2 linked regions of the Homo sapiens genome follow. The protein of the gene in region 1 purifies or fractionates together with the protein of each later gene. This does not show direct contact. Each region holds a gene or a part of one and is shown in the gene's direction. Other genes may lie near its edges. The genes, in order: CALCR and GNG2.

Evidence for each region.
Region 2: the proteins of CALCR (region 1) and GNG2 fractionate together in Homo sapiens (co-fractionation; one study listed by IntAct). This does not show direct contact.

The regions. Positions count from the first base shown.
Region 1 is NC_000007.14:93,568,155-93,571,983, reverse strand, and holds part of CALCR (calcitonin receptor isoform 2 precursor), read left to right. Parts: intron 1-3,829. UniProt on the Homo sapiens protein: G protein-coupled receptor activated by ligand peptides amylin (IAPP), calcitonin (CT/CALCA) and calcitonin gene-related peptide type 1 (CGRP1/CALCA).
Region 2 is NC_000014.9:51,961,413-51,965,241, forward strand, and holds part of GNG2 (guanine nucleotide-binding protein G(I)/G(S)/G(O) subunit gamma-2 precursor), read left to right. Parts: intron 1-3,829. UniProt on the Homo sapiens protein: Guanine nucleotide-binding proteins (G proteins) are involved as a modulator or transducer in various transmembrane signaling systems.

The DNA.
Region 1 (3,829 bases):
TCTCCTTTTGCTTAAGACCTGTATACTGTGTAAAGTACAAATACGTACCCTTTTGAAAGAGGAGAAAGAGGAAAATAGCATCATTCCCCTTGGCACACTAACTACCATATACCCGGTGCCAATGATAATCTAGTACTTTTACAAAAAATATGTTTTAAGCTAAGAGTAGCCTTGTGAGTTACAAGCTATTATCATTATTTTATGTATGAGGAAATTGAGGACCCATTAGATTAATGAACTCGCTCAAAGCCACGAACCAAGTAAATTAAAAATATATTTGAACCCAGGTCTTTTTAAGTTCAATGATGGATTACATTATATATTTATTTACATATTTGTATTTTTTACAACTTAACAGCAGCATTTATTTAGAGATAATATAAGTTAAGAGTACAAATTCTGGCACAGCTCTGCTTGAGTTTGACTTCTGATTCCATAACTTTCTATCTGTGTGATTTGGGCACATAATGTAACTTCTCGGTGCCTTAATTTTCTTTGTAGAATAAGAATTAAATGAGTTAATATTTGTAAAGCATTTGGGTAGGTGTCTGGTACATGGTAAGTTCTATGTGTTATATTTTTTTAAATGTCATTCATTCAAAAAAATTTTTATTGTTATATGCCAAGCATTGCACTAAGCCTGAAGATACATAGACAAATAAGTCATATCCCTATCCTCAAGGATGTCGTGTCTAGTAGAGAATGACAAGAACATAAGTAATCATCCCAATCAGGTATAGATCTTTTACTTAATTAAAAGCATCATTTCTTGACAACTGTGTGCTTTTCCATGTGAATGTGATCTTCCAGAGCTTCATATAATGAGTGTTATAAAACCAAGTGATAAGATTTTGTGTTTTCATAATGATACTAACTTGTTTTCAATTCTAGTATCAAAACACAGAAAATCATATTAACATATGTTTCTGGCTTCCCTTATACATTTAGAAAACCAGCAATATAGAGAGGTTTGAGATCTTTAAAATTTTATATTAAAAGTGAATCATGAAGATAGAACATTGGAGAATAATCAGTAGAAAAAATGTTATCAGTATCTGTTCCTCAATACTTCTAACAGTAATTTTCTTGAATTGGCTTTTCAAAAACAGTTTTGTCTGATTAGAATGTAGTTTTGGTTTTGTTTTTAAGAAAAAAAATGTTTCAGGGAAGAAAGAGTGGATCACAGGATACAGAAAAATGTCCCTAATACAAGTTGGCAAGGCAACATATACCTCATTGAAGCTGGCAGCACTTCCTAGTCTATGCCTGCAGCTCTGCACAGCTGCCTGGTACCTCCAGGGTACCAGTGGATACCTGAGGTATAAGATTCTGTCTTTGTTAAAAATTAAAGTCCCTGTTTATTTTTTAAAAATAGCATATAAATTGGTATTCTTTGTACCAGAATAACACAGATAATCTAAACTCAAGGAGTTATTTCTCAAAGAAGTAAAGTACCTGGTTCAGTGAAATATTTAACTATTCCATTTCACTAAAATTTATGTTTAACTATTTCAGTAAAATTTATGTCTTTCCTCTCTCTTATCAAGTCTCAGACTACCTCCAGTTTTTCCCATGGATGCTACATTTTTCTTCCTCTAAGTATCGCTGCCACACCTCTAGTTTAAGTTTTTATTATCATTAATAAAATATTTATTCTCCTAATATTCAGTCACATTAAGTTTCTATGTGCTAACTTCAGTGTTATAGAACATGGTTAGACTTGTTTTCTAATCTTTAATTTCTCCCCCTCTGTTCATAATTATTCAGTAATGGTCCAAGGACTGCAAGACTTAGAACCCCTCTTCAGCCTGGTATTTAAGATGTTTCATGGTATAATCCTAGTTTAGCTTTCCTATCCAAGTCAGGTAGAAAACCTCAACAGCTCCTTAATTTTAGTTCTGAAGCTGTAGTTACACCAGAAAAATTGACTCCTGATTTGGAGTCCATTCTTCACTTTTAACCCTGTGCCCTTGCATGTCAACCTCAGTCTATATTCTTCTGCCTCAAAATTGAAGTGTGTGTGTGTGTGTGTGTGTGTGTGTGTGTGTCCCTTTACATCAATGGTTCCATTGTAGAGCTGCTTTTCTTTGGTTTTCATGTCTCGCTGCAACCCTAGTCTCACTCCCTGCCCTTTATTTGTCCGGTGGTTCAGAATTCAACATTTCAAATCTTACCTTCCTTCATCCTTAAAATGTATTAATCATTCTCCCATAACACATCTAACAAATTTCCATCCTATAGCTTTGCTCATATTTTAAAACTGAATAAATATGTACTAAGTGCCTATTATGTCCTAGTCAGGGGATATTGTGACAGATTACAGATCCTGATTTCATGGGGAATGGAAAAGACAGACAAACCAACAAACATTATACAGCCCTGTGGTATGTATTCCAATAGAGAAATGCCATGAGGGTGCCTAGCCGGACAACCAGCCCGGACATCAGGGAAATTTTCTAGGGAGGTTACCCTAAAGGGCATATGATTCAGCATTGAAATGACAGAACAGAATGAGCTAGATAAAGAGGGGAAGAAATGAAGTGTTACAGGCAGGACACCAGATTGTGGCTTGAAACAACATGGTGACTTGGGGAAACCACAGGTATTTTTGTTGCCCCAGCAGGGTTAAAGGACACAGATTATACACAAAGAAGCTTGCATGCCTACCATACTAAAGGGTTTGCATTTTATCAGGAAGATAGTGGGGGGTCCTTGAAGGAGTTAATATAGGTTACTGAAATAATCAGATTTGCCATTTTGGTAGATCTCTCTGGTGGAAAATAAGAGGCATATTAGATTGAAAAAAAGGATGGATACAGATTAACTGGACACACGCAGCCTTACTGCAGTGACAGAGGGAAGAATCAATTAGGGCCTCCTTGTTGGAGACAGAAAAGAAAAAAAAACGAAATTATTTTAAAGGTAGATTTTGTAGGATTTGGTGAACGATAGAAATTAGAGGTGAGATGAAAGAGAAAAATTGTATGATGAATTCCAGGCCTCTTTCATGGATAATAAGAGAGATGTGATGTCATTCACCAAGTCGGGACAAGGAGTATTTTGGACAGGCAAGATAAATAGTTGAATTTGGAGGAAAAAAAAATAATGTCTTTGGCTCATCCATGTGATGATGTTAAGTAGAAGTGCATATAGAAATTAGTGCCTCAAGAGAGAATTTGGTACTAGAAATATAAATTTAAGAGACATAGTGAATCTATTTCAGCTGACAGCATAGGAATAAAGCATATTATCTCTGGAGAAGTAAAAACAGGGAATAAAGAAAGAAAACATAGAGGAAAAAATTAAAGGTAGAAAATTAAAAGAAAAGTAAAACATCTTAGAATCCTGGAAAGCACCAATATTTAAAGGGAAATGGAAAACAATCCTGCAAAAAAAAGACAGAGATGAAAGACTACAGGAGAGAGACAGAGAGAGAGAGAGAGAGAGAGAGAGAGAGAGAGAGAGAGAGAGAGAAAGTAATTTTATGGAAACCAGGGAGGAGAAAGCGAGCACTCATGCGGGATGTTACCAGTAGATCAAGTGGGATAAGGATTGAGAGCTCGCAATTGCATTTAATTGAGAGCAATTTTAGTCGTGAGTTGGGTGTGGGTTGAGAAATAAATGTGAAATGAGGAAATGGAGACACTGATTGTACACAATAATTTCAATCAGTTTGAGACGCCTGCCTTACTTTATTTTCCCTTTTTGAAAGGTGCAGTCTCCTAAAGCTTAACTTACATGCTGCTTCCTTCTTTTTAGCCTTTCCTGGACAGCGTTTAATCCCCCCAACAAAGATGTCATATCACATCATGATTGATATCCCTTGTTT
Region 2 (3,829 bases), on another chromosome or scaffold:
GCAATTACTATGAGTGTTGAATATGTGTCAGGCACTGATTATACGGTAGTAAATAACACAGGTGTGGTTCCTGCCTTCGTGGAGCCCAGAGCCTAAAGGGAAAGGCAAATATTAAATGGCAAATAAACAAACGATGTCCGTAATTATAAACTGTGAAAGCAATTTATAATTTCTGTGAAAGAGAAGAATGTGAGAAAGTACTCTGAGAGAAAATAATCAGGAAAGTCACTGTGGATGAGGCGATCAGTGAAGGTTCTGCAAGGAGGTGGTATTTCTGCTGACTTCTGAAGGAAGATGATAAGCCAACCCATTGAGGAGATGAAGAGAACAATATTCTAGGATACTGAATATGTGACACTCTGAGGCAAAAAAGAACTTGGAGCTTTCAAAAAGTAAAGGAGATATTTGAGAGGGAAGAATGCTACAACATGAAATTGGAGAGAGGGGGAGGCCCAAAACATGCAATACCCACAGGCTGTTTTACAAAGTTTTGGTTTTCTACAAATTACAATGAGAAGTTATTGAAGGTTTTAAATAGGAGAATGATAGGAATCCACTTGTATTTTAAAAATATCTTTCTAGCTACAGTATGGAGAATACTACTCCTGCATAGTTATGAACACAGGAAATCATTTAAAACTGAGATAATTAAACATTTTTGTGCTCTTGACTCATTTGTCTGTCTGCTCAAGCCTATGGTCTCCTTCTTAGAATCATGTTTTTAAATTACAAAAGAAACTAATTATATTGACATGAGGGTCATTAGAATATTTTTGTAAAACATTTTAAATAATATTATTTAAAATATCAATTTTTAAAAATATATGTGATGTAGTTATACATAGGTACTCCTTTGTTAACTGATTATGTAAGATCTAATAGGTCTACAATCATAAGGTGGATGAACAGAAATGCAGTGTTGAGGTGTCTGCAATGAATATAATGTGATTGAAAGTATCTGGTATCTATCAGTGGCCAAGTCACATGTACTGCTAGGGCTACTGCAGTGTGTTGTCTATATTTATAATGAGAGGAAATGTTAAATTTCCATTTGAGGTTAGTGAAAAATAAAGATGTAAATTTTTTGTATTATTTGAAGTTCACATACCACCCCCCGAATTCGATCTGTGGAACCCTGGGGTAATCCAAATTAATTGCCTTTATTTACAAAGTTATTTTAGTAATCACAAAGAGAGAAGACTGCAGTATGAACTGGGGTAGCTGCAATAGATATAACAGGAAGGGAGCCAAATTTGAGATATCTTTGGAGGAAGAATCAACAGGACAGAAAAGGGAGAGATTTTCTGGAGTTATTGGGGAAATCTTCATGGAAGAAGTAGGCATACGAATGTAGAAGAAGCTGTGTGCAAAATGTTAGCAGGGATTGTCAGAAAGCAGAAAGATCTGCTAGGCACACGATTGCTGTGACTCATTATAAGGCACAGGACAAGGAAGACAGCCACAGGTTAGAAAGGAGGAATGTTCATGAAGATTAAGTCAGGGACATTGAGACTCACAACTCAGTAGCTCAGGAGCTGTGGGACCTGGGGCAAACACTTAATGAAGCCTCCACTTCACATATTTAAGATGAGAATGATAATAGCTTGTGACCCATAATGTTGTTGTAAGGATTAAATAAGATACCGTATGTAAAGTGGTTAGCACAGTTCTGACACATAGCAAGGGCTGATAAATATTAGCAATTATTCTAATTACTGCTGGGATTCTGACACTGTTGGAGCATTGCCCACAGGAGATTGCAGTCTTGTTGAGGAAACAAGATAAAACACATAATATATTTTAAGAAGGAAACCATTCAGAATCAAATGTTCAAATATAAAGATATGAGCAGCTCTAAGTTATTAAATTTTCCTAGTATAGTACTTCCTGTATCATAAAAAGATTTTGAATATTCATGCTACATAGTTGTATGTGAGTGTTGCAAACGGGTAGGGATGAACGGTGCTGCTTCTCCTCGTAACAAATGAGTTTTAGATATCACTGATTTACTGTCTCCACTGCCTAACAGCTAAGCTCCTGTTTGGTGTAACAATGACTATCGCTCAAACAAGAAGAAAGAATGAAGAAAAAAAGTGATCTCAATTCAGTCTGAAAGTCTGTCCTTTGTTTTCATGTGGGAGAGCTAAGACATAAACAGGCTGTTTCCTTTCATTTTGTCATAGAAGCATTTCATAAAGAATTTCAATTTCAACCTTTGGAACAAAGCCCACATTTGAGTAGTTTATATGCAGATGGCTGTGGCTTAATGGCAACACATTCGAGTTCAAGTTCTTTTTCTGCTGTGTGCTTTGCTCTATGATATTGAACAACTTATATAATCTGCTGAGCCTCAATTTTTCATCTATAAAAAGAGGATAATAATTCTTACCTCAGGATTACTGTGAAGATCAAAAGAGGAAATTTAACTCAATGTCTGGAACAAAATAAGGATAAAATAAAAATATTTTTGTAAGTACTGTAATGTCTATTAAAAAGTGAGACTGATTTTTACATACATATCATGTATTGGGTTGACTAGTGTCCCCTAAAATTTATGCCCACCTGGAATCTTAGAATGTGGCCTTACTTGGAAATAGGGTATTTGTAGATGTAATCAAATTAAGAGGAATCATACTGGATTAGGGTAACTCTAACTGGTGAGATGGGAAATTTGGTCACACAGAGAGGAGAATGCCACATAAAGACACAGACACTCAGGAGAGAATTCCATGTGAAAATAGAGACAGAGATTGGAGTGATATGTCTATAAGCCAAGGGATACCAAAGATTGCCAGCAACCACCAGGCACTAGGAGAGAAGCATGGAACAGATTCTCGCTCAGACCCTCCAGAAGGGACCAACCAAGCTGATGCCTTGATTTCAAACTGCTAGTCTCTAACAGAATAAATTTCTGTTGTTTTAAGTTACCCAGTTTGTGAGGACTTGTTCAAGACAGCCAGAGGAAACAAATACACAAACCAATACCTGTACCTCTTTGTGTCAATTAGGGTTGGCTAGATGTTGTGGTAGTAACAGAAGGTGCCCTACCCTTCATTCTTAGGGGTTTGCAATAGCACAGTCACACTTCTCACTCCTACCATATGTCAATCATAAATCAGCTGCCACTCCACACCATGTCACCTTCATCAGGGATGCTGGCAGATGGAGCAGCCTCTGTCCAGAATGTTGCTTCTATCTGTTCTGTGGCAAAGGGAACAGAGACCCCAAAAATTCAACGGTTTATGGGATGAGAAGAGGAAACTGATTTCTCTACCCAACCAGTAAATCATAAAGTTGAAGTAGCCTTAAGTAAAAAAGGCCAGGCACAGTGACTTACACCTGTAATCCCAGGACTCCGGAAGGTGAGGCGGGAGGATGGCTTGAGGTCAGGCGTTCAAGACCAGCATGGGCAAAATAGCAAGAACATTTTTGAAAAACCAGCTAGGCATGGTGGCATGCACCTGTAGTCCCAGCTACTCAGGAGGCTGAGGCAGGAGTGACAAAGCTTTAATCAACTCAGCCCTGGGACAAGAAACAAATCAAGGATATTGCCACTATGCCATTTGTTAAAACCTCTGCATCAATTAAGAGGGTTCCTCATAAATTATTTCAGTCGGACGAAGTGGTATAGAGGAAGGGACATGGCAAACTGTGCATTGGCTCCTAAAGTTTCTGCCCATAATTGATCCACATAAATTCTGCTCACATCTCTCTGGCCAGAGCAAGCTTATGTCACTGGGCAAGTCTGATGTCATCATGTGGGCATGTATGTCCCACTTGTAGGAAGGGGCAGTGACTATCTTTAGTAATAATATAATTCACCCAAATC